6 separate regions of the Homo sapiens genome follow, and regions 1, 2, 3, 4 and 6 are each linked to region 5. Evidence: fine-mapped expression QTL. A gene starts in region 5. Each other region holds a variant in brackets. All regions are shown on one strand. Distances are from middle to middle.

Region 1 (4,087 bases), 27 kb after region 5:
AAAATTACTCAACACAAGAAGGACAAGTCTACACTCCCTTAACAAGCTACAACACAGGAGCACACAGGTGTCTCTGCAGGAGGTGGAATGCAGCAGGCCTAGGTGCTCTCCTGCAACTGGCTTAGCATGTGGGCAGCACCTTCCTCCTAAAGCATAGGGGTGCAGGGGAGAGTTCCCACTCCCACCTTCTGGTAGAGGCCTTTGTTGTTTTCCAGTGTTGTTTTCCCTGAAGCACAAATGGTGCTGGTCCTTCAAGGTACAGTGACTCTGCTGAAGGAGCTGGAATGAGAACTCCCTTTTTTTGAGGTCCTTAATCCTTTGGCCCTGATTCCTTGGGAAGAACTCACAGGGTTGTGAGAACAGTTGCCCCATAGGGCCGAGGTGGGGACATTCTGTGCCTAGGTATTCATAAGCCAAGGCTGTATTTCTTTTACCCCACCCGTAAGCACTAATCACTAACCTAAACCAGCAACACCTGGTTGCCACAGGGAATTGGGTTGTGTCAAAGCCCACACTTAGCATTCCTTCTGCAAGGCCCTACCCAATGGCATTTGGGGTACATTAATTGGGGTAAAGGTTTTTCTTTTTCTTTTTCTTTTTTTTTTTTTTTGAGATGGAGTCTCACTCTGTCGCCTAGGCTGGAGTGCAGTGGTACAATCTTGGCTCACTGCAACCTCTGCCTCTAGGGTTCAAGCGATTCTCCTGCCTCAGCCTCCCGAGTAGCTGGGATTTCAGGTGCCTGCCACCATGCCCAGCTAATTTTTGTATTTTTAGTAGAGACGGGGGTTTCACCGTGTTGGCCAGGCTGGTTGTGAACTCCTGACCTCGTGATCTGCCTGCCTCGGCCTCCCAAAGTGCTGGGATTACAACCTTGAGCCACCATGCCCAGCCTTCTTTTTTTTGAGATGAAGTCTCGCTCTGTCGCCCAGGCTGGAGTGCAGTGGCACAATCTTGGCTCACTGCAACCCCCACCTCCCAGATTCAAGCAATTCTCCTGCCTCAGCCTCCTGAGCAGCTAGGATTACAGGAGTGCACCACCACGCCTGGCTAATTTTTGTATTTTTAGTAGAGACGGGGTTTTACCATGTTGGCCAGGCTGGTCTTGAACTCCTGACCTTGTGATCTGCCAGCCTGGGCCTCCCAAAGTGCTGGGATTACAGGTGTGAGCCACTGTGCCTGGCCAGAATTTCCTTCCTTTCTAGCCTGAAAAATATTCCATTGTATGAATATATCGCATTTGGTTATCCATTCATCTGCTGATGGACACTGGCTTGTTTCTTTTCGCCGTTGTGAACATGCTGCCATTAACATTGGTGTATAGGTATCTGAGTCCTTTCTTTCAGTTTTTTGGGGTACACACCTAGGAATGAAATTGCTAAGTCATATGGTAATTCTCTAACTTTTTGAGGAACTGCCAAGCTGTTTTCCACAGTGGCTGCTGGCTGCATCATTTACGTTCTCACCAGTCATGCATGAGAATTTCAGTTTCTCTGTATCCTTACCAAAACTTGCTTTTTTTTCTTTCTTCTTTCATTTTTTTCA[A/G]ATAGTCATCCTAACAGGTAAGAAGTTGTATCTCATTTTGTTTTGATTTGTATTTGTCTAATGACTGGTGACATTGAGCCTTTTTTCATGAAGCTTGTTGGCCATTTGTGTGTCTTCTTTGGAGAAATGTCTACCCTAGTTCCTTCTCCTTTTTTGAATTGAGTTGTTTGGTTTTCTCGCTGTTAAGTTGTAGGAGTTCTTTATCTATTCTGGATATTAATTCCTTAACAGAAATATGGTTTACAAATATTTTCTCCCATTCTGTAGGTTGTCTTTTCACTCTTTTATTTTTTAATTTTTATTTATTTATCTATTTATTTATTTATTTATTTGAGATGGAGTTTTGCTCTTGTTGCCCAGGCTGGAGTGCAATGGCATGATCTCAGCTCACCACAACCTCTGCCTCCCAGGTTCAAGTGATTCTTCTGCCTCAGCCTCCCGAGTAGCTTGGATTACAGGCACGTGCCACCACGCCTGGCTAATTTTGTGTTTTTAGTAGAGACGGGGTTTCTCCATGTTGGTCAGGCTGGCCTCGAACTCCCGACCTAAGGTAATCCACCCGCCTCGGCCTCCCAAAGTGCTAGGATTACAGGCGTAAGCCACCACGCCTGGCCTATTTATTTATTTATTTTTATACAGAGTCTCGCTCTGTTGCCCGGGCTGGCGTGCAGTGGCACACTCTTGGCTCACTGCAACCTCTGCGTCCCAGGCTCAAGCGATTCTCCTGCCTCAGCCTCCTGAGTAGCTGGGATTACAGGCACCTGCCACCATGCTCGGCTAATTTTTTTGTGTTTTTATTAGAGACAGCGTTTTACCATGTTGGCCAGGCTGGTCTCGAACTCCTGACCTCAGATGATCTGCCCGCCTCGGCCTCCCGAAGTGCTGGGATTACAGGCGTGAACCGCCGCGCCCGGCCCCTTTTCACTCTTTTAATAGTGTCCTTTGGTGCGCAAGTTCTGTATTTTGATGAAATCTAATTTATCTGTTTTTTTCTTTTGTTGCCTGCAATTTTGCTGTCATATTCTAGAAATCATTGTGAAGTCCAATGTCATGAAGATTTTTCCCCGTGTTTTCTTGTAAGAGTTTTACAGTGTTAACTCTCAAGTTTAGGTCTTTGGTTCATTTTGAGTTAGTTTCTGTATATGGCATAAGGTAAGGGTCCAGTTTCATTCTTTTGTATGTGGGACTATCCAGTTTTTCCAGCACCATTTACTGAAAAGATTATCCTTTCCCCATTGAGTGGTCTTGGAAGCCTTGCTGAAAATCAGTTTACCATATAGGCAAGGGTTTATTTTGGGGCTCTATTCTATTCCACTGGTCTATATGTCTGCTCTATTGCATTTAAAGAAGTATACAGGGGCCAGGCCTGGTGGCTCATGCCTGTAATCCTAGCACTTTGGGAGGCCGAGGCAGGCAGATCACCTGAGGTCAGGAGTTCAAGACCAGCCTGGCCAACATGGCGAAACCCTGTTTCTACTAAAAATACAAAATTTAGGATGTGGTGGCACGTGCCAGTAATCCCAGCTACTCAGGAGGCTGAGGCAGGAGGATCACTTGAACCGGGGAGGCGGAGGTTGCAGTGAGCCAAGATCATGCCATTGCACTCCAGCCTAGGCAACAAGAGCAAAACTCCGTCTCAAAAAAAAAAAAAAAAAGTATATGGGGACTGGGTGTAGTGATTGACACCTGTAATCCCAGCACTTTGGCAGGCCGATGGGGAAGGATTAGCCTGAGACCAAGAATTCTAGACTGGCCTGGGCAACATGACCAGCTCCTGTCTCTATTTTTTAAAAAAGAAGTGTATGGTTTCTTCCAACCTCTTGTACTTATACCATTCCCTCAAAGAGAAAGAGAATTAAGAGGAAATGTCTTAAACACAAAGGAATTTAATGTTATGGTGCCCTGGGTCTGAATGCTCTGAAGAGGGCAACATTCTGGAGGTGCCAATTTTCAGATGAGCATTTAAAATGTCAGCGTTGGGCAAACATTTTATTTTGTCTTGAACTCATCCCCCCTTAATATCTTGGGTACGACCATTCTCTACATTTTCTCTCTGTGCTACTAAACTTAGAGGATGCAAGTCAGGATTGGGAGGAGACTGATTTTGTGTGTGTTTGGCCTTTACTGCAGAAGAAAAAGAACTGCAACTAGGCCGGGCGCGGTGGCCCATGCCTGTAATCCCAGCACTTTAGGAGGCCGAAGCAGGCGGATCACGAGGTCAGAAGTTCAAGACCATTCTGGCCAACATGGTGAAATTCCGTCTCTACTAAAAATACAAAAAATTAGCCGGCTGTGGTGGTGGGCGCCAGTAATCCCAGCTACTAGGGGGGCTGAGGCAGGAGAATCGTGTGAACCTGGGAGGCGGAGGTTGCAGTGAGCCGAGATCGTGCCATTGTACTCCAGCCCGGGAGACAGTGCAAAAAAAAAAAAAAAAAAAAAAAAAGAACTGCAACTAATCAACATTTATTTAGTGAGCACAACTTATGTGAGGCACTATAACTTACATAAGTTGTGCTGAACTCATGGTGGCTTATAGTCTATTGGG
Region 2 (4,081 bases), 34 kb after region 5:
ATGAGCTGGCGAGTCCCGGCCCGAGGCTGTGACAGGGGCCATTACTGAGCCCACTCCCCACCAACCTTTCTGCGGTTTAACTGACTCTCCTCCTTCCCCTCCAGATCCCAAGGGCTTGACTCCTACCTCCTCTAAGGCATTTTGAAAAGTTTGCAAATGCACCCTTGATCCTAGCACGTACTTAAGAAGCGGCTCCCCCCTAGAACGTCAGGCTTGAAGCTGACCCCTTCTTCCTCCTCCCGCGCCATTTGGGTCTGTGCGCAGGGCCGGAAGCCTGCTGGGGAGGGGCACGAGGCCGGGCTGGGGCCTCTCCGGAGGGAGCCCGCCGCCCCGCCCAGGGCGCACGCACCCAGCCTCTGAGGGAGGAAGCTGAATGGGGCCAGAGGCTGGCCCTCTTTGGGGATTTGCATTATACAGGCTGTATTTAGAAGCAGCGGCGGGGAGCGGTGGCTCACGCCTGTGATCCCAGCATTTTGGGGGGCCGAGGCGGGCAGATCACCTGAGGCCAGGAGTTCGAGACCAGCCTGTCAACATGGTGAAACTCCGTCTGTGCTAAAAATACAAAAAAAATTAGCCAGGCGTGGTGGCCGGAGCCTGCAGTCCCAGCTACTCGGGAGGCTGAGGCAGGAGAATCGCTTGAACCCGGGAGATGGAGCTTGCAGTGAGCCGAGATCACACCACTGCACTCCAGCCTGGGCAACTCAGCGAGACTCCGTCTCAAAAAACAAAACAAAACAAAACAAAACAAAAAACCAAGAAAAAGAGAATAAAAAAAAATAGAAGCAGCTTTCTTGCTGATAGAAAGCAATGACCCTCTCTGCTATAATTACAACTGAAGAGTCACTTTCTTTCAAAAACTCTATTTTCAGATGTTTACCACTTTCTTTAAAAAGGAAAAAAAATTTGCCTCAAAGGCAGGCAGTCCCCAGGGCATTTCTGGTCTCCTGGGGAAGGAACCTAAGAGCGGTTTGGTAAAATTCCATTTTGCTATCTTGGCGTTACCTAAGGGCAAGAACTGAGGTGGGGCTTTGGTGACAGCAGGGGCTGAAGAGTGCTCTTTTTCATCATCCAGGGTGTCCAATTGTTTTGTTTCCCTGGGCCACATTGGAAGAATTGTCTTGCCCCACACATAAAATACAGCAACACTAACAATGGCTGATACACTTTTAAAAAATCGCAAAGAAACTTCATATATATATATATATATATATATATTTTTTTTTTTTTTTTGAGTTTTGCTCTTGTCGCCGAGGCTGGAGTGCAACGGCACGATCTCGGCTCACCACAACCTCTGCCTCCCAGGTTCAAGTGATTCTCCTGCCTCAGTCTCCTGAGTAGCTGGGATTACAGGCATGCGCCACCAGGCCTGGTTAATTTTGCATTTTTAGTAGAGACGAGGTTTCTCCATGTTGGTCAGGCTGGTCTCAAACTCCTGACCTCAGGTGATCCACCTGCCTCGGCCTCCCAAAGTGCTGGGATTACAGGCGTGAGCCACCATGCCCAACCAAGAACTCATAATGTTTTAAGACAATTTACGAATTTGTTTTGGGCCGCGTTCAAAGCCGTCCTGGGCTGCACGGGGCCCACAGGCTGTGGGTTGGACAAGCTTGCTGGACTGTCATGAAGTTTTGAGTAGGTTAATTGCGTGGAGAGACCTGGAAGACAGGATCCTGGGTTGTACTGTACTCTCCCCGCCATTGGACCTGTGCTCCCTCCACCCAGGTGGCATCGCAGTGGCCAATGGAGAACAGAGCCAGACTGCCTCGGTGCAAATCCCAGGCTCCTAGTCCTGTGGACCACTTACTCCTTCGGTGAACTTGGGAAGCT[G/C]TTCATCCTTCCGGCTTCAGTTTTCCCACATGTAAAATGAAGATAATAATGGCACCTACCTCAGAGGATCATTGTGAGGATTAAATGAATTACCACAATAAGAGGGTATCATTGCCAGAAAGGGGTCCCGATCCAGACCCCAAGAGAGGGTTTTTCGGATCTTGTACAAGAACTCTGGGCTAGTCCATGAAGTAAAGTGAAAGCGAGTTTGCTAGACAAGTAAAGAAACACGAGAATGGCTACTCTATAGGCAAAGCAACCCTGAGGGCTGCTGGTTGGCTATTTTTATGGTTATTTCTTGATCATATGCTAAACAAGGGGTGGGTTATTCATGAGCTTTTTGGGAAGGAGATGGAGATTTTCCCCCTCCCCCAGTTGAGGACTCCTCCTTCTTTTAGACCATATAGGATAATTTCCAGGTGTTGCCATGGCATTTGTAAACTGCCATGGTGCTGGTGGGAGTGTCTCTTAGCATGCTAATGTATAATTGGCATATACTGAGCAGTGAGGACAACCAGTGGTCACTTTCATTGCCATCTTGGTTTTGGTGGGTTTTGGCAGGCTTCCTTACTGCATCCTGCTTTATCAGCAGGGCCTTTGTGACCTGTGTCTTGTGCTGACCTCCTATCTCATCCTGTGACTAAGAATGCCTAACCTCCTGGGAATGCCACCTAGCAGGTCTCAGCCTCATTTTACCAGCCCCTATTCAAGATGGAGTCATTCTGGTTCGAATGCCTCTGCCATAGACACGTATTATATATGCATTACCATGCTTATGTTTTTTGCTTTCCCTGTCTGTAAAATGAGGAAATGCTATTAACTGTTATGTTGGTCACTCTGTACCAGAAAAGCCAGGAAGAGTGTCCACTGTGTGCCAGACCCTTGTAGGTGACGCTGTGAGGAGACGCAGAAGAACGGAAAGACCTGGCTCCTTCCTATGTACTCTGAGATCTCTATGAGGAGGCTTCCCCCTTCCCCTCTAGGAAGACTCCTCATAGAGATCTCAGAGTACATACGAAGGGGAAACATCCACACCCAGTTTTCCCTGGTGGAAAGGTGTGACACAGAGGCCTGCCAGAGGCTCATGGCCCCTTCTCCACCCAGAGCAGCATCTCAGCTCAACCTGGGGATCCAGTAAAGCGGTGCAGGGATCCTGCAGGCTCTGGCAAACTCAGCCTTGACCTTTGGATCCAGCTCTCTGTCCCCATGGCCAGTCTTTTCACTCCCAGGCCTTCTGTCTGGCACAGGGTGTGAAAGAGGAGCCGGGGGCAGGGCGGGGAGGATGCGGCAGGGACAGGGACAGGACAGGAAGGACTTGGCCTAGCTGATTGAGACTTTTTTTTTCTTTTTGAGACGGAGTCTCGCTCTATCGCTCAGGCTGGAGTGCAGTGGCCCAATTTCAGCTCACTGCAACCTCCACTTCCCGGGTTCTCCTGCCTCAGGCACGCAAGTAGCTGGGATTACAGGCATGCACCACTGTGCCCAGGGATTACAGGCATGCGCCACTGTGCCCAGCTCCAGTTGAGATTTTGGCAGGGGTCTCTTGAGCAGCTGATGGGCTCCTGTCACTGCGCCCAAAGTCTGTCCCAGGCGAGTCTGGTTCCACTTAAGCCCAGGTCTGGGCACAGAGGTGCCACCCTTAATGTGTGTGCAGTATGCTGCAGCTGTACCCACGAAGTCTGCCCCTGCCTCTCATGAACACCCAACCCATTCGAGGCTCCAATAATTAGAATTTTCCTTGCTTCACTTTATCCATCTAAATCCTATCGAACTTGTCAAGGGCTACGTCAGTCTCACCTCCTCCATGAAGCCTTCTCTGATTGCCCAGCTGACATCAGTCTTACTGTCCTAAGTTTCCTAGTTCTCTATTTCATTCATTTAGAAATTAGAAAGTAGAAATGTACTTAATTATATTCTCAAAAAATATTTGAGCACCTGTTTGATTGCAAGGCAGGGAGGGTGGCTGTTGGGGCATCCATGAAAATACAGGACAGAATCTTCTAACAAGAAGCTTCAATTCTAAAAGGATGATAAAAATTCTAAAGGCATGGCCTAGAAAATTCCTTATTGCCATATATTGCTTTTCAGGTTGGATGCTATGATTTAATTCAAAAATAATAGTTAACAGTTATTAGGTGCTTGCTATGGGCCATTACTGTATTTAGCACTTTACACAAATTATTCTATTGAATTTTTTTTTGAGATGGGGTCTGGCTCTGTCACCCAGGCCGGTGTTCAGTGGTACAATCATAGC
Region 3 (4,087 bases), 75 kb after region 5:
GAGGCTGAGGCAGGAGGACCACTTGTTTGGGACCAGGATTCCAGACCAGCCTGTGCAATATAGCAAGACACCGTCTCTACAGAAAATAACGAAAATAAAAAATAAGACGCTGCTCTAAGGATGCCACTGGCTGCGGATAACCTTCCTACTGCTCCCTGCTGCCCTCAGGACAAAGCCTAAGTGCCTCATCAGCCCCTCCCTGATCCGCTGCCCCACACCGCTCCACCTCTGCCTTCCACCTGTACCCTAGGACCCCTTGGGTCCTGACAGGGAGACCCCGCCCTCTCTGAGACGGCTGCCACAGCAGCCCATCTGCCTCACCCCACGGAGGAAAACTGAGTCCAGGAGACAATCCCCCCCTAAATTTACCAACTGTTTCCCCCCTTCCAGAAGTTTCTTGAGAGCAGGAGCCATATGGATTCGTCTCTGCATGCCCAGCCTGAGACATCAGTGCCTAGGACTCAGGAGGCATACCCAGCACATGCTTGTAGAAGAAAGAAAGAAACAGGGAAGGTGTTTTTTGCTATTTATCGCATATTTAATTTCATCTTTATTATATTTTTCCTGATTGTAACAGGATGATGTCTTAGGTGTGAAAAATTAGAAGTGGAAGTGTTAGAGCTCTTCTAGAATTTGTCTAGCAGGTTCTCTGGTTTTTACTGAAACCAAACTCCCATGAGAAAACAACCTACAATTGGGAAAATACATAACTTAGAAAGAAAGGGAAAGTCTTTAGTGTGATAGAAATTCCTCCCATATCTGTTTCCTGTGCTTATTCTAATGCATTGAAATATAAAGTAGATCCTCTGAATACTTTGTTTCATTTTTACCAATATAGAATCATATCATGTTCTTACTGACTTGCTCCCCACTAAATACATTTTAGATATCTTCTGTATCTAATCATAGGGATCTACCTCATTCTTTTTGTTTTGTTTCATTTTGTCCATTGTTTTTTACTGATTGAACAAGAACACCTCTCTCTTTTCAAAGACACATGTAGTATTTAATTGTGTGGTTGTAGGCCAGCTTATTTAGCCCACACACCCTTGATTACAATTTGGCTCATTCCCAGTTTTTGACATTATCAATAATGATGCATGGAATAGCTTGTCTTTTTGAGCTTTGGGGAGCATTTTCTGTGGGAGACTTATTCTGTGGGAGACTCCTAGAAGTGGACTTACTAGGTAAGACTATTTTAAATTTTAATAGATAATTGTCAGATTGTCCTCCAAAAAAAAATGATTGTAACAATTCTGGTACGTTTGGTAGTAATTTACATTTCTACCAAGGACGTGAAAGTGCTTGCTTAGCCATGTCTTCACCAACACTGAGTATTATCAGTCTCTTAAGTCTTCGCCAATCATGTAGGCTATCATATCTATTACACAGATTTGTGATGTTTCTTCAGGGGCTTGCTTGTTTGTACTCAGTTTTTCTGTTGGCTCATTTTTAAGGCCTCCACAGACTTCAGGATAATCAGTCCTTTGTGCTCTGTGCAGCAGTGTTCCCCCCGTTTCTCTTTGTCTCCTGATTTTGTGTGGTGTGTGGTGGTCGAGGAAATGGCTGGAGCACACACTCTGAAGGCAGGCTACTGGGTTTTGTCTGTAACTTACTGGCTGAATGACCATAGTTTAGTTACTTAACCTCAGAGTCCCTTAGATAAGGACAGTACTTATCCCAGGGATTGTTATGAGAATGACACGACTTCAGATATATAAAGTGTTCTGTGCAGGGTTTGACATGAAATGAGCGCTATAAGTGTATATGCTATTATTATTTTGCATTCAAATAATTTTAATTTTATGCAGTCAAATGTATTAATCCTTTATGGCTTCCGGATTTGATGTCATAGTTATAAAGGTTTTCCTCATTCTAAGATTAGAAAGAGATTCACAAAGGGGACTATTTGAAGGAGTCTGCGGGGAGTCCATTTGCAAGATGTCTCCTCCTCCCTTCCCTCCCTTCTGTCCCTTCCGTCCCCTCCGTCCCTTCCGTCCCCTCCGTCCCTTCCGTCCCTTCCGTCCCTTCCGTCCCTTCCCTTCCTTCCGCCATTTTGCTGTCTTGTAAATTGATTTGGCTTTTCACATAGTGGGAATTTTTTTCAAGGGGAAACCTATCTGTGTTTACATAGTGGAAGGATGATACACTGGTCTGGGGACTATGTTGGCTGTCGTGTCATGCCTAAAGTGTAGGCCTGTGTAGGTCGTCCCCTCCCTTCATGGATAAAACAACTACTAGTTATCAGTAAGTGCCAGCCTCATACTACG[G/A]CTCCTACCCTGAAGGAGTTCACCGTCCAGTGAGAGAACGGATAGTGATCAGGTGAGAGGTGTCACCAAGGCCCTGTGGTGGAAATAACCAGCTTAATGGAAGGAAGAGCTTCCTGGGTGGACGGCGAGGAAGGGCCCAGAGGGCATTTCAAACACGGGGGATGGGGTGTTCAATCTGCTCTACAGATCCTGGTGACCTGCCTGTGAGGCGCAGGGTCCCTGGCCACCCCCACCCCCCACCTGCACAGAGGCCCCGGGGCAGGGAAGAATGGCTCAGCGCTGGGCAGGGTGAGATGGAGAGTGGTCAGAGGCCAGACCACAAGCATCGGGCCAAGACTAGGAAAGCCCAGCTCCCCTCCCAGCTGTAGAACTTCACTGGTCAGAGAGCCTGAGGAGCCCTAAGAAAGGGACTTCAGTCCTCTGGGGCTCCCTTTGCGTGTCCTTACAATGCAGCCTCAGCTTCTGTCCTTAGGCAGCTGTGCAAATTCTGTAAGATGGTGCATGTGCAGACATTCTGTCCTGCACAATAAAAGTGGACACCTTTGGGGCACTTCCTGCCGCCGCTTGACCGGGAGTTGCTCCCGCCATGGGGGCTGTGCTGTGGGTTCAGCCTGTCTGCATTGCCAGGGGTTCCTGGGCCTGCTTCCTGTGGAGGGGCAGCTTCACCCTGGATGCAGACCTCCCCGTTTGCAGCCCGTCCTGGTGAGCTGACTCTTGCCTCCTGGTCCCCTAGTCTTTTTGTTGACCCAGATCAGGACTCTAGTCCAATACTATTGAACCCTGGCAGAGATGCTCCACAGGAAGGGCTGAGCCTCCTCCTCCCACAGGTGTTTAGTAGCAAGAAAAGAAACTGTGCTTGGGGAGCCTACGCTTTCCCTTTGGCCTTGTTTATCCCAGATATTGGTATGAACCCCTCTTGGCACTGGCAGGGGTTCTACCATCTGCTCACACTAAGGGTTAAAGGCCTGCAGAGGGGACAGTGAGCTCTTCCATCCAAACTTCAACTCCATTCCACAATACCAGAGCCCAGTGAATGGCGTCCCCCGTGGGCAACAGTGATTCTCATGGGAGCAGGGCCCCGAAGGTGAAGGTCACTGCAGAGGGATCCCCACACCTGGATCCCTACGATCCAGTCAGAGGGCACAGAAAGGCACCTGGCTGTTGGGGAAAGGACCCTGGTGGGAGTCACAGAAGCCTTTGTCCCAGTTTCAGCACTGCCCAGTTCTGTTGCCTTGGAGAGGTCCCTTGCCCCGATGGTTCTGTGTCCTGATTTGTAAAACGGGAAGGTTGGACATAGGGCCGAAACGCATGCCCTGTGGGCGGATGGGAGCTTATGCACTTTGAGGTTGGATGCCTTTGAGTGGGCGTGCGCTGCCCAGGGAGAAGCAGCTCCCACCCCTTCCTCCAGTGAAGGCGTTGGCCTTTGTATTTTGCGCTGTTCCCTGGTCCTGGCTTTTGAGAAAAGAGCCAGCAGCCTCTGGTCTTGTTGACACCATCATCTGAGAGTGGCAGGCCACCAGAGGGAAGGGCTAAGGACAGAGCCAGATCTGGCTGGGCCATCTCACCTTCTGGAGGCCGAACTTGACCCGGGATGGAAATAATGAAGCAGCCACTGGCTTTCCCAAGGCCTGTGATCCTCCTGGTCACCAGAAATCCCAAGTTCTTATCTCCTGCTCTTCCAGGTAGGCTGGGCCAGCTTCCCAGGATCTGCTCAGGAGGGCCCTGTGCTGAGAAGGGTCCTGCATTTGGTCTAATTCTCTGCTTTTGCCATCTTGAAATTCCGAGTCTTTTTTTCTTTTTTCCTGTTTTAGACTTCA
Region 4 (4,087 bases), 52 kb after region 5:
TAGTCTGGAGTGTAATGTCGCAATCTTGGCTCACTGCAACCTCTGCCTCCTAAGTTCAAGCAATTCTCCTGCCTCAGCCTCCCAAGTAGCTGGGATTACAGGTGCCTGCCACTATGCCCAGCTAATTTTTTGTACTTTTAGTAGAGATGGGGTTTCACCATATTGGCTAGGCTAGTCTTGAACTCCTGACCTCAGGTGATCCACCTGCCTCAGCCTACAAAAGTGCTGGGATTATAGGCATGAGCCACCGCCCCCAGCCCATTTATTATTTAAAATGCGTGATGAGATTTAGAATTATAGAGAAAGACCCAGAAAAAGGAGAAAAGGATACATTTTCATTTTTCTTAGGAGCCGCAGATATGCTTGATTTGACATAGCTGTCACAGGGATTTTGCTCATTAGCATGGGGAAACTATTCCTAGTGTGTCAGAGCACCCCCAGATTGGGCCAGCCAGGGATGGCAGGGGAGGAGGAGTGAACCTGGGAGTGCTGGGCTGGGGTCCAGTTGAAACTCTGCCACTGAATTGCACGCTTTGGACATGTCACTAAGCCTTTCTGGTCACACCTTGCCTGATGCCTTTTGTCCCTTTCACCCTGATTCTGTGATTCCATGAGGCCTGTTTAGCATCCCTTGGAAGACCCATGGATTGATTCACCAATCAGCCGATCAGGCGATCAATCTGTCTATCTACCTAGTTCACCTCAGGACCTTCTATGATTGCAGTGACGGAGAGGACCCGGTGTGCCAAGGGTGTGCTGCAGACACATGGGTCCTCTGGTTTTGAGGATACACAGATCTTTACAAGGATCAGAAGAGACTCAGGCACTTTGGGTTACGGGTGACAGAAAGGAACCTAAAGCATCTGAGACCAAAAGAGGGAGTTTATCATAAAGTGTCAGGATCTCTCCCAAGAACCACACAACAGGGAGATCAGGGAGGTCATCCAAGTGCCTGGGCCAGAACCTCGAGCCCTACCAACCCAGACAGCTCCTTCCCTCTGCTTTTCTGGGGCTGCCTGGCCTCTCATTTTTGCTTCTCCTGGTGCATCTTGGTTCATGTAGTCCGTGGAGGTTGAATAGCAACAGTGAATCTCAGTTCCAGATTAATGGAAGGGAAAATCTGATTGGCCCTGCTTGGACAGGACTCCCGCCCCTACTCTACCCAGCCTGAGCCAGATATTCCTGGACCGGATATAATGTCACCAGGCTACCTCCTAGGTGTGTGGAATTGGGGGTTTCTCAGAGAACGGGAGGTTGCGACTGCCCCGACACCCCACAGAGTGTTGTGTTAGGATGCAGGTTTCACTGACGCAAGACGCCAAATAATAACAGCTTAGACCAAAATGGAAGTTTATTTCTCGCCTGTGTGTAATAGTCTGCGTGCAGACAGTCCAGGGATAATACAGTAGCTCCACGGTGTTTGGGACCCAAGCTCCTTCTAGCTTGTTGCTCTGCTCCTGGGATATGTACCTTATACACATGATTGAAGATGCTCACCACAATCTCCACATTCCAGCCTGGGAAAAAGGGAGGGAGGGGATAGAGAAGACAGGTGCCTTCCTTTTAGGGCCACAATTCTTCTTGCTAAGTTCTCATTAGCCAGACCTTGGTCATACAGCCCTGCTGCTGCAAGACGGATTGGGAAATGCTGACTTTAGCTAAGTGGTCATGCATCCCGTCAAATATTCTACTATCCTGCAAGAAGGTCAAATAGATATTGGGGGGCAACCTCCTACAACAAGTAATAATGGCCTCGCTTCCTGGAAACTCATGGAAGTTTTTCTCTCTTCTGACTTCTAGCAGGTTATTTATTGCCAAGAAAGAGGTATGGTGGGTATGGGAAGAATATCTACAGGGAAATGCTTCCAAAGGTGTAACCAGGAGGAGTTTAGACTAAATGATTTCTAAAATCCTTTCTTACTTTTATGCCACTTCAAGAAAGCCCTGGGAGCCGGGCACAGTGGCTCATGCCTATAATCCCAACTTTGGGAGGCTGAGGCAGGCAGATCACTTGAGGTCAGGAGTTCGAGACCAGCCTGGCCAACATGGTGAAACCCTGTCTCTACTAAAAATACAAAAATTAGCTGGGTGTGGTGGTGTGCCCTTGCAATCTGAGCTATGCAGGAGGCTGAAGCAGGAGAATTGCGTAAACCCAGGAGGTGGTGGTTGTAATGAGCCAAGATCGTGCCACTGCACTCCAGCCTGGGTGACAGAGCAAGACAAAAAGAAAGAAGGAAGAAAGAAAGAAGAAAAGAAAGAAAGAGAGAGAGAGAGAAAGAAAGGAAGGAAGGAAGAGAAAGAAAGAGAGAGAGAAAGAAAGA[A/GAGAGAGAA]AGAAAGAGAGAGAGAGAAAGAAAGAAAGAAAGAAAAAGAAAGAAAGAAAGAGGGAAAGAAAAAGAAAGAAAAGGAGGAAAGAAAAGAAGGAAAGAAAGAAAGGCAGGCAGGCCTGGGGTTGATGTGCCTCTTCCTCTATCGTAACTTAGGGCACAGAAAAGGAAGTTCTTGGGACAGATTGCAGAACTGAATTTGGTAACACAGAGTTCTTTAAAGAATAGATGTCCAGCCTAGGTGCCGTGGCTTATGCCTGTAATCCCAGCATTTTGGGAGGTTGAGGCAAGTGGATCACCTGAGGTCAGGAGTTTGAGACCAGCCTGGCCAACATGGTGAAACCCCGTCTCTACTAAAAAGACAAAAAATTAGCCAGGTATGGTGGTGGGTGCCTGTAATCCCAGCTACTTGGGAGGCTGAGGCAGGAGAATCACTGGAACCTGGAGGGCAGAGGTTGCAGTGAGCCGAGATTGCACCATTGCACTCCAGCCTGGGCAACAAGAGCGAAACTCCGTCTCAAAAAAAAAAAAAAAAAAAAAGAATAGATTTCCAGTGCTGTGGTTGTCCTTGTCATAGCCCAGTTCTGCTAAACAAGGTTGAGTTGAAGTTGTCTCCTTCAGACTCTAGAGCCACATATTAAGTCCCTGCCTGGTAACCCCCTCCTGTGGCTGGGCTGAACAGAGTCGCTCAGAGCAGCTAACCCACCAGTGAAGCTGTGGTGGGCATCTGCTGCATGCAGGGCCCTGGGCTGGCCGCTGTGGGGACCCACGGGGGCAGAAGGCTGTGCTCGCTGACCCTTTTCCTCTCAGCCACCAGGCTGACCTCATTTTCCGTTGAGACTTCCTGTTCTCCAGTAATTGCTTGGTGGGGCAAGAGGCTTCAGTTCCAAGTCAGCAAATGGGATCTGAGTCATGATGTATATGGTAAGTGTGCCTCTGGCCACGGGATCTTCACCAGCTCAGCACTGGGTGCTGGGCACTGGGGACTGGGCAGGTGAAGAGGGCTGCCAGAGGGGCTGTTTCACTCACGCAAAAGCATTGATTCTGTGTCTGCTGGGTGTCTGGCAATGTGTGTGTGCATGTGCACTTGTCAGGATGGGGAAGGCAGGAGGATGGAAATGACTCTGCAAAGTTAGAGCTCAAAATGGACTTTGTAGCTTTTGGCCCCAGTGATGCCAGATGAATTAGGCTAGTAGGACAGCTGGGAGTGGAAAGAGGCCCAGACTCAGAATCGACTTGGATCATGCTCTAGCTACAACAAAAATGTGTGACCTTCCATGGTCAAACATTATTTCTCTCCTTCGTCTTTTTTTTTTTTTTTTTTTAAGACAGGGTCTTGCCACTCTGTCGCCCAGGCTGGAGTGCAGTGGTGCCATCATGACTCACTGCAGCCTAGACCTCCTAGGCTCAAACAATCCTCCTGCCTGAGCCTCCTCAGTAGCTGGGACAAGTCCCCTATTGCTGCTGTTGTTGTTTTCCCTATTTTTTTTTTTTTTTTTGAGGCAGAGTCTCACTCTGTTGCCCAGGCTGGAGTGCAGTGGTGCAATCTCAGCTCACTGCAAGCTCCGCCTCCCGGGTTCACGCCATTCTCCTGCCTCACCCTCCTGAGTAGCTGGGACTACAGGCGCCCGCCACCACGCCCGGCTAATTTTTTTTGTATTTTTAGTAGAGACGGGGTTTCACCATGTTAACCAGGATGGTCTCGATCTCCTGACCTCGTGATCCACCCGCCTCAGCCTCCCAAAGTGCTGGGATTACAGGCGTGAGCCACC
Region 5 (4,087 bases):
AGGTTTTCTTGAGAGAGAGGATTTTCTAAATTTCTTCATTTCCCTTTGAATTGTTGTCATAGAGTTCTACATCAGATACATCCCAGCCAAACAGGAAAAAAAAAAAAAAAAAGAAGACAAAGCGTACATTTTCTGATTCTAGATTAAGGGGACTATGGGAAGAAGTAATCTCAGCTACTCGGGAGGCTGAGGCAGGAGAATCGTTTGAACCCAGGAGGCAGAAGTTGCAGTGAGCCGAGATGGCGCCACTGCACTCCAGCTTGTGCAACAGAGCGAGACTCCATCTCAAAAAAAAAAAAGTGCTTAGAATAGTGCTTGATACATAGTGGTATTATTATGAGCGGTGGGGTGATAGATATTACTGGTAGACTTTTTAAGGAGTGCTGAGAAGAGTGGGTTCCAGGTCTCATTTCCATTCAGGAATGTGGAAGGAGATCACCTCGCAGACTGCCCTGTGTCAGTTGGAGCAGCCACATCAGAGCAAACTCTGCTGGAAGTGGGGCTGAGCTTGCCTTTCCCCTGCCCTTCGTCAGCAGCCCTCAGTCCCCATGTGCCTAAGGGGGCTCAGGAGCACTGGTCAAGCATCTCACAGGAAAATTTCGAGGGGCTTATCTTAGAGATGTGGGCCACTGAGCGGATACAGTGGGATGGGGGCACATACAAGTCAAAGCCAGGTCTCAGGATGGTCCACATTGCCACGAGCCAAGGTAGCGCAGACAGCAAGGGAGAACACTGGATCTCAAAGGCAGAAAGAGAATCACCCATGAGTGACTCTGGCCTAATATCAGACATCAGCCACCAAGGCCAGCAGAAGACCCAGGAGCAGGACCTGTGTCTCCTCAGCAGTCAGCAATTCGGGCGGGCCCGTGGGCCCAGCAGCTCCAGAACAGAAAGGAGCCGAGATGGAGAGGCCACAGGATAGATGCAAGAACCGTCCCCACCCCGCCCTCCTGTGCACCTAGGTGCCATCTTCTGCAAATCCGAAAGACTGAGCATTGTGTCTAAAGTGGACTGTTTACCATTTAAATGATTAAATCCAACTATGCTTCATAGATTAGACTAAAATATGGCCCCCATCCAATCATCCAACCCTCCCTCGCACCACTGTCCAGAGGGATGGGAACTTATAAAGGCATTTCATAGAACTGAAGAAATCGCCTTTTTTTTTTTTTACATTTGAATGTGGTGAGGGTAAACGTGTTGACTCTGCCTGTCTTCCTCCTGCCCGCACCTCTTCAAGCCCTGAATTGGATTACAGGTTAACACCCTGCCATGCACGTCTACAGACATACCCACACCCACACCTGCACAAGCTTGTGTCTAAACCTTGCTTCAGGAACAAGCCAGAAGAGTTTTGGGCTCTAAGGTAAACAGGAGAGGAAAAAAAAAACTTTCTAAAAAAAGACTCCCTCCTGGTAATTTTATTTTAAAAGTAGGGAGAATACCACTGTTTGCATAAACAAGCTTCGAAGGTACAACTACTCCCTGCTCCCTCTATGGCTAATCAAGGGAGGAGTTGAAGGAATCAAACAATCCGTCAGTAAAAACGTATTGTTCACTCACTTTGCAGAACAAAGCCTATGCTTTGGAGCCTATTAGGTAAACTACAATTTTTTTAAAAACTTTTAGGGATATAGGGAACAAAGCAAAGAACAACGGAAATCCCTCTGCCTCAGTATTGAGACTGTGCTGGAGGTCACTCCACCCGTGGCGACTGGGGACTGGACCCAGCGGTGAAGTCAGATAGCGTTGTCCTCAGGCTGTTTTTCAATTTGCTTGATAAACATGCAGGATTTCTTTGCCAGTCATAAAGCTACTAGCTCAAAGCAGGCTGGGTGACCTCAGATGGCTCCGCTGGGACTGGAAGGTCACTGGAGCCACTGGTGAAAATGATGCTGTCACTACCAACTCAAAAGGTCACCTATCAGTGTGCCATGTGCCACCTCCTGGAGCACACACATGTGCACACACATACACTCACACGTGTGTGCAGGTGCACACCTCCCCCAGAGGCTGCAGCCAAGACGGGCATCCCACATCAGAGGGATGAATGGCAGGTCTGTCCCGCCAGCTGTGTGCTCTCTCCCACCCGAAGAAAGCAGCAGAGACTCAGACGGCGGAGCCTGGAGGAGCCCACGCAGTCTGTTCCCGGCACCCGGTGCGTGTGAAGGGACTTGAGGGCAGCGAGATGGAATCAGCAAGAGAAAACATCGACCTTCAAGTAAGTTCTCTCTGGAAGAGAGCAGAGGGGAGACCGGGAGTAGAGGTGAAGCTGGAAGAACAGAGGATTGATACTTTAGTCACTTGATATTCTCCCTCCCCGTTCTCTTCTTACTCACTCCCTTCTCCAAATGCTCCCTAGGCTTTGTCTCTTTATTTTCTCTTTCTCTCTGTTTCCCTATCTGGTTCTTCACTTGTTTTGAAATATCTGAAAAACAGATTGGTTAACTCCCTTTTGGCCTCTGCTTCCTCTTGTCAGTCAAAGAGCTAATTAGATCCGTATTACCAGAAAATGATTTCACATTCTGAGCAGTGCTTTCCCCAAACCCCAGGACAGTAGAGACTTCTCTTAGAGCTGCCGGGGAGACAGGAAATATATGAGTTTTGAGGCTAGGAAGAGAGGCAGCTGGCCAACTTTGCATTTTACAGGTTGGAAAAAACTTGAGCCGTTTCTCGGCTGTCTTCACAAAGCTCTACTGTGTAGGACAGAAAGCGTCTCATTTGGACAGTGCAAGGAAAGGAAATCAGTCTAATCTCCTAGGAAGAGGCAGAGATGTGTGTCCCTCTGTAGCTGGGATGGGCTTGGAAGGCATCAGAGGTTCCAGTCCACTGCTGGAGGGGAAAGGGTGGGATGTTACGGTGAGAGGAGAGCCAGATTGCTGGGAGCTGCACTCTGTGACTCCTTGCCAATGGATAGAATAGAACGAACCCTTCTATGACCACTGCTGAGGCTGTGTAACATTGCAGAGAATCAAACAAAGTGTGGAAAAGGACTTTTGAGATCAAGAATTTCTGATCCCTGAACCTGGTCCTCGAACAAAATCTTAAGCAGCCACCCAATATACACTTCGGATTAAAGAAGAGCTGTTTTGTTGAAGCAGAGTATGTGCACGCGTCTCTCTCTCTCTCTCTCTCTCTCGTTCTCTGTGTGTGTTTTGGGCAGGGTGGCGTGAGTCTGGCAGAGTCTCTGTCCTTGGCCCCTCCGCCCTTGAGACACCACCAGGGAACTGTAGGACTGCTTGGTGTGCTGTGTCAAAACCATTCACCTAGTACAACTGCATACCCAGTGCTGTTTTCCTGGATTGGCAGCCAGCCCCGAGAGCGGTCCCACCGCAAGGCTTGCTTGTCCCTCTGTCTGGAACCTTCTTTCCCTGGCTTATCTCCTGGCTGGCCCTTCCTAGTACATTCAGGTCTCAGCTCAAATGTTACTTCCCCCAGGAGCCCTCCCCTGACCAACCTCTTCACAGGATGCCTCCTCCCCAATTTGTCTTTATCATTTGTTTAATTTCTTTCATAGCACTGCTCACCACCTAAAGTTACACTGCTTATTTATTTAGTATGTATTGCCTGTCACTCTCACTAGGACACAAGATCTCTGAGGGCAGGGCCTCTCCTGTTTTATTCACTGCTGCAGCCCGAGTGCATGAGGCAACTCTTGGTACACGGTCATTGCTTTAGAAAACATTTGTTAAATGAATGAGTTGAGGAAGCCATGAGTTGGAGAGGCTCTGAGATAGGAATAAGGTCACCTAATTGGCCCAAGACCTCCAGTCCATGTCTTCTGTCCCTAGTATGTGTTTTCTTCTTACTTCTAGTTCTTGCCTCTATAAGATCCTTGGTTGTTAAGGAAATTGTGTTGCTGCTTATTTTCATTCTCAGAAGAGCAAGTTTCTTATGTGCTGATGGGTTGAACGATCCAGAGTTACAGGCTAAGGACTCTGCATCTGAACCAGAGGTTCAGAAGGAAAGAGGTGGTGGGAGGAAGGAGAAGGAAATGACTGGCTAGGCTGGATGAATGTCTCTCTCTAGCAGGTAACTGAGGTGTTAGTGTACCTTTCTCTTCATTTGTCATTCACTCTCTTCTAAT
Region 6 (4,087 bases), 42 kb after region 5:
CTCAAGCGATCCTCCTACCTCTGCCTTCTGAGCAGCTGGGACTACAGGCGTGTGCACAACCACACCTAGCTACTTTTAAAATTTTTTGTAGAGACAGGGTCTCACTGTGTTGCCCAGTCTGGTCTTGAACTCCTGGGCTCAAGCGATCCTTCTGCCTCAGCCTCCCAGAGTACTGGGATTGCAGGCATGAGCCACCATGCCCAGCCTCACTCTTTGAAATATTGCCCAACATCCTGGTATTTGAATTCACCTCCCTTGCCTGGTGCAAATTGTGGCACCTCAGCCAAACCTAGCAGCCTGGTCTGTCACTAATAAACCCCAGATCCCTTCCTAGCCTGTCGCCTCTCACTCATCCCAGGGTACATGCTGGTTGCAAACTAAGCCCAAGAGTGGATTTGGACGCAAGTTGGTAAATAACAACTAGGCTTTTAGATTCGGAGTTTGGATGATGAGAAAAGTGAAGTTTTGAGTGGGTGGGAAGAAACCTTCCCTGATTTTGGCTGGTACATTCAGAGACTCACAGCACTAACAGACAGGGCAGGCTGCCGGGGCAGGAACCCTGGGGAAAGGTGTGTCACACAGGGCCTGAGGTGAAGGGAGAGCTGCTCGGGTAGCAGTGGGGGAGGGGGACAGAGGCTGGGAGATCCTTCCTAGAGATGGGAGCAGCTTTCCACTTCAAGGACCACAGGTCTGCAGGCCCACAGCTCCTAGGACAGAAACTTACAAAACTGTCACTGTCAGGAGGGAGTGCTGGCTCTCAGATGGACTCTGTTCCTGAGCCCCTATCTTGCTTCCATTCACCTTGCACCAGCTGCCCAGAGAAGCTAGCCTTGAGCTGATGTCTACCTTTGCAATATTCCACCTGAGTGCATGCTGTCTTTTGCTGATCTGGTCTTCCAAAATCTAAGAAGCCTACAACAGCATTTTGGGATATGGGACATTTAGAGGTCTCATTACAAGTTCCATGGGACTTTTAGAAAAAGCTTAGATCTATGGACAACTAGGAGAAGGCAAATTTAAACTTGTTTGAAGCAACCCACACAAGAGCAGGTTTTCCTAACCTGGGCGGGGGTGTCCATAAATTCCCAAGGGGGTCCATGTGAACTCAGGAGGCGATGAACCTGCTGAAATTATGTGAAAAGTTATTCATGAAAAAAATTAAAATTAAAAAAAAAAGAAAAGCTATCCGTGTGTGACTGCATTTAGGGTGAGGTAGGGGGTCCATCACCTTTATCAGATTCTGAAAGGGTCTGTGACCCGAAAAGTTAAACAAAACAAAGCAACACATTTTTCTAGAGGATGAAGGTGGGAACTGGGTGTCAGGGGAATTTGGAGGACATTCTAACTCCTCCCACTTCCCATATGCTGCAAACGTGTGCAGTAGGAAACAATGACAAATACTAGGAAGTGGCAAGCATTTCTTAAAAAGGGCCTTTAAACAAATAGAGTCCTGAGCATTTCCCAGAGTTTCTTATAAAAGTTGTCTTCCTCTCTTTAGGTAGCCCCTTTCTTTCTTTCTTTCCTTTTTTTTTTTTTTTTTTTTTTTTTGAGACGGAGTCTCACTCTGTCACCCAGGCTGGAGTGCAGTGGCGTGATCTCAGCTCACAGCAAGCTCCGCTTCCCGGGTTCATGCCATTCTCCTGCTTCAGCCTCCTGAGTAGCTGGGACTACAGGCACCCACCACCGCACCCGGCTAATTTTTTGTATTTTTTAGTAGAGA[C/T]GGGGTTTCACCGTGGTCTCGATCTCCTGACCTCATGATCCGCCCGCCTCGGCCTCCCAGAGTGCTGGGATTACAGGCATGAGCCACTGCGCCTGGCCTTTTTTTTTTTTTTTTTCCCGACACAGTCTTGCTCTGTCACCCAGGATGGAGTACAGTGGCGTGATCTCAGCTCACTGCAGCCTCCGCCTCCCAGGTTCAAGCAGTTCTCTACCTCAGCCTCCTGAGCAGCTGGGATTACAGGCACCTGCCACCATGCCTGGCTAATTTTAGTAGAGACAGTGTTTCGCCATCTTGGCCAGGCTGGTCACGAACTCCTGACCTTGTGATCCACCCACCTCGGCCTCCCAAAGTGCTGGGATTACAGGTGTGAGCCACAGTGCGTGGCCACACTATTCTTTCTCTCTCTTTTTTTTTTTTTTTCTGAGACGGAGTCTCACTCTGTCACCAGGCTGGAGTGCAGTGGCGCAATCTTGGCTCACTGCAACCTCTGCCTCCCGGGTTCAAGTGATTCTCCTGCCTCAGTCTCCTGAGTAGCTGGGACTACAGGCACACGCCACTATGCCCAGCTAATTTTTGTATTTTTAGTAGAGATGGGGTTTCACCATGTTGGCCAGGATGGTCTTGATCTCTTGATCTCCCATCTCCCGTCTCGGCCTCCCAAAGTGCTGGGATTACAGTTGTGAACCACTGTGCCCAGGCTCTCTCTCTTTTCTTTTCTGTTTTCTTTTTTTCTTTTCTTTTTCTTTTCTTTCTTTCTTTTTTTTTCTTTTTCTTTCTTTTCTTTTTGACAGGGTCTTACCCTGTCACCTAGGGTGGAGTGCAGTGGTGCAATCACAGCTCACTACAGCCTCAAACTCTCAGGATCAAGCAATTCTCCCATTTCAGCCTCCCAAGTAGCTGGGACTACAAGTGTGTGCCATCATGCCTGGCTAATTTTTTTTTTAAATTTTTTTATAGAGATGGCATCTCTCTATGTTGCCCAGGCTGGTCTTGAACTTCTGGGCTCAAGCAATCCTCCTGCCTCAGCCTCCTAAAGTGCTGGGATTACAGGTGTGAATCACCATGCCTGGTTGTACACTACTCTTTCTTACTTGTCTCTCCTTCTAGTTTGTCTTCACTGCCACAGGGGAACCTCTTCTAGTAGCTGCTATTTCTTCAAGAAGGACGTGAAGCTAGAGACTCAGGAGTGCTTGTTTGTTAGGTTGGAATTAGGAGCCACATCCAGGAGAGGCTGAGTAAGTCCTTCATCTCATCCAGTGGTAGCCAAACTTTTCAAGCCTGAGTACCTCTTTAAGACTTCAAAACCTTAGCTGGGAGCAGTGGTTCATGCCTGTAATCCCAGCACTCTGGGAGGCCGAGGTGGGTGGATCACCTGAGGTCAGGAGTTTAAGACCAGCCTGGCCAACATGGCAAAACCCCGTCTCTACTAAAAATACAAAAATTAGCCAGGCATTGTGGCGCACACCTGTAATCCCAGCTACTCCGGAGGCTGAGGCAGGAGAATTACTCCAACCCAGGAGGCAGAGGTTGCAGTGAGCCAAGATTGCGCCACTGCACTCCAGCCTGGGTGACAGAGTAAGACTCTGTCTCAAAAACAAACAAACAAACAAACAAACAAACTTCAAAACCACTTTTGGATCCTTCCAAGTAATCATAATTGTACTTTTAGTATCTACAAATGAAGAACTGCATGCTGAGAAAAAGCTACCATGCATTCAGTAATACTTTTTACATGTATCTTAAAAATTATAGCAGCACCTCTGTGCATTTGACAAACAGCACAGGCTTTATGTGTGAGACGCATCATCTATTTGTTCTCTAGGCAATGTTTGCTGTGCATCTGGATTCAGGGACCCCATACTGTCTGAGACCCTCTCCCCTTCCCGCAAAGCGGGGATCGCTGGTCTAATTTAAGCTGTTTATTTTATAGATGAAGAAACTGTGGTCTAGGAAAACAAAGCTCCTAGTGAAGTAGTTTGGGGCCCATTTCCATCCAGGTCTCTTGACTATGTCAAGAGATGCCCATGGCATGATGCCCACGAGCTATAGAATGGACACTCAGCTATGACATCCAGTTTCCCACTCCCATACTGCCTGTGCTCTCCCGTCACTAGGAGGTGTCCAAAGGGATGAAAGGACGCTTTAGGGCTTGCCTGATCTGGGAAACAGTCAGACAAGAGAGTGAACCATGAAACACCAGGCCCTGGCAACAAACTGGAGCACAAAGCCATGACACGGCTGCCATGGGCTGAGGATGCCAAGCTGGCAGCTGAGCCCTCCCTCACTTAGTCCTCACTATAACCCTGACCATTAAGGAATATTATCTTCACTTTATAGATGAGGAAACTGAAGCTTAGAGAGGTCAAT

What was found. PIP is the estimated chance that this variant, and not a neighbour inherited with it, causes the effect.
Region 1: its variant is fine-mapped to the expression of NINJ2 in whole blood (TOPMed, PIP above 0.99).
Region 2: its variant is fine-mapped to the expression of NINJ2 in whole blood (INTERVAL, PIP above 0.99).
Region 3: its variant is fine-mapped to the expression of NINJ2 in whole blood (TOPMed, PIP above 0.99).
Region 4: its variant is fine-mapped to the expression of NINJ2 in NK cells (Gilchrist 2021, PIP 0.95). The same link has a PIP of 0.9 or more in monocytes and monocytes after interferon gamma.
Region 6: its variant is fine-mapped to the expression of NINJ2 in whole blood (TOPMed, PIP 0.91).

The regions. Positions count from the first base shown.
Region 1 is chr12:634,164-638,250 of GRCh38, reverse strand. All of the region lies in intron 1 of NINJ2 (ninjurin 2), which reads left to right. All of the region lies in intron 3 of NINJ2-AS1 (NINJ2 antisense RNA 1), which reads right to left. Among named protein-coding and RNA genes, the nearest start is that of NINJ2-AS1, 5.3 kb to the right of the region's middle. The variant A/G (reference allele first, on the strand shown) is at 1,543.
Region 2 is chr12:627,031-631,111 of GRCh38, reverse strand. All of the region lies in intron 1 of NINJ2 (ninjurin 2), which reads left to right. NINJ2-AS1 (NINJ2 antisense RNA 1) reads right to left here and starts at 221. Exons shown (of 5, transcript NR_122124.1): 1 at 127-221. RefSeq lists silencers at 196-295, 356-435. The variant G/C (reference allele first, on the strand shown) is at 1,828.
Region 3 is chr12:586,113-590,199 of GRCh38, reverse strand. The region is part of intron 1 of NINJ2 (ninjurin 2); the gene reads left to right. It overlaps LOC105369595 (a long non-coding RNA gene), which reads left to right and starts at 3,714. Exons shown (of 2, transcript NR_134624.1): 1 at 3,714-3,952. It also overlaps the pseudogene RNU7-103P. The variant G/A (reference allele first, on the strand shown) is at 2,271.
Region 4 is chr12:609,498-613,584 of GRCh38, reverse strand. The region is part of intron 1 of NINJ2 (ninjurin 2); the gene reads left to right. Among named protein-coding and RNA genes, the nearest start is that of NINJ2-AS1, 19 kb to the left of the region's middle. RefSeq lists enhancers at 3,153-3,654, 3,908-4,087. The variant A/GAGAGAGAA (reference allele first, on the strand shown) is at 2,322.
Region 5 is chr12:661,462-665,548 of GRCh38, reverse strand. It overlaps NINJ2 (ninjurin 2), which reads left to right and starts at 2,104. Exons shown (of 4, transcript NM_016533.6): 1 at 2,104-2,221. The coding sequence starts at 2,189.
Region 6 is chr12:619,871-623,957 of GRCh38, reverse strand. All of the region lies in intron 1 of NINJ2 (ninjurin 2), which reads left to right. Among named protein-coding and RNA genes, the nearest start is that of NINJ2-AS1, 9.0 kb to the left of the region's middle. RefSeq lists enhancers at 1-244, 245-989. The variant C/T (reference allele first, on the strand shown) is at 1,721.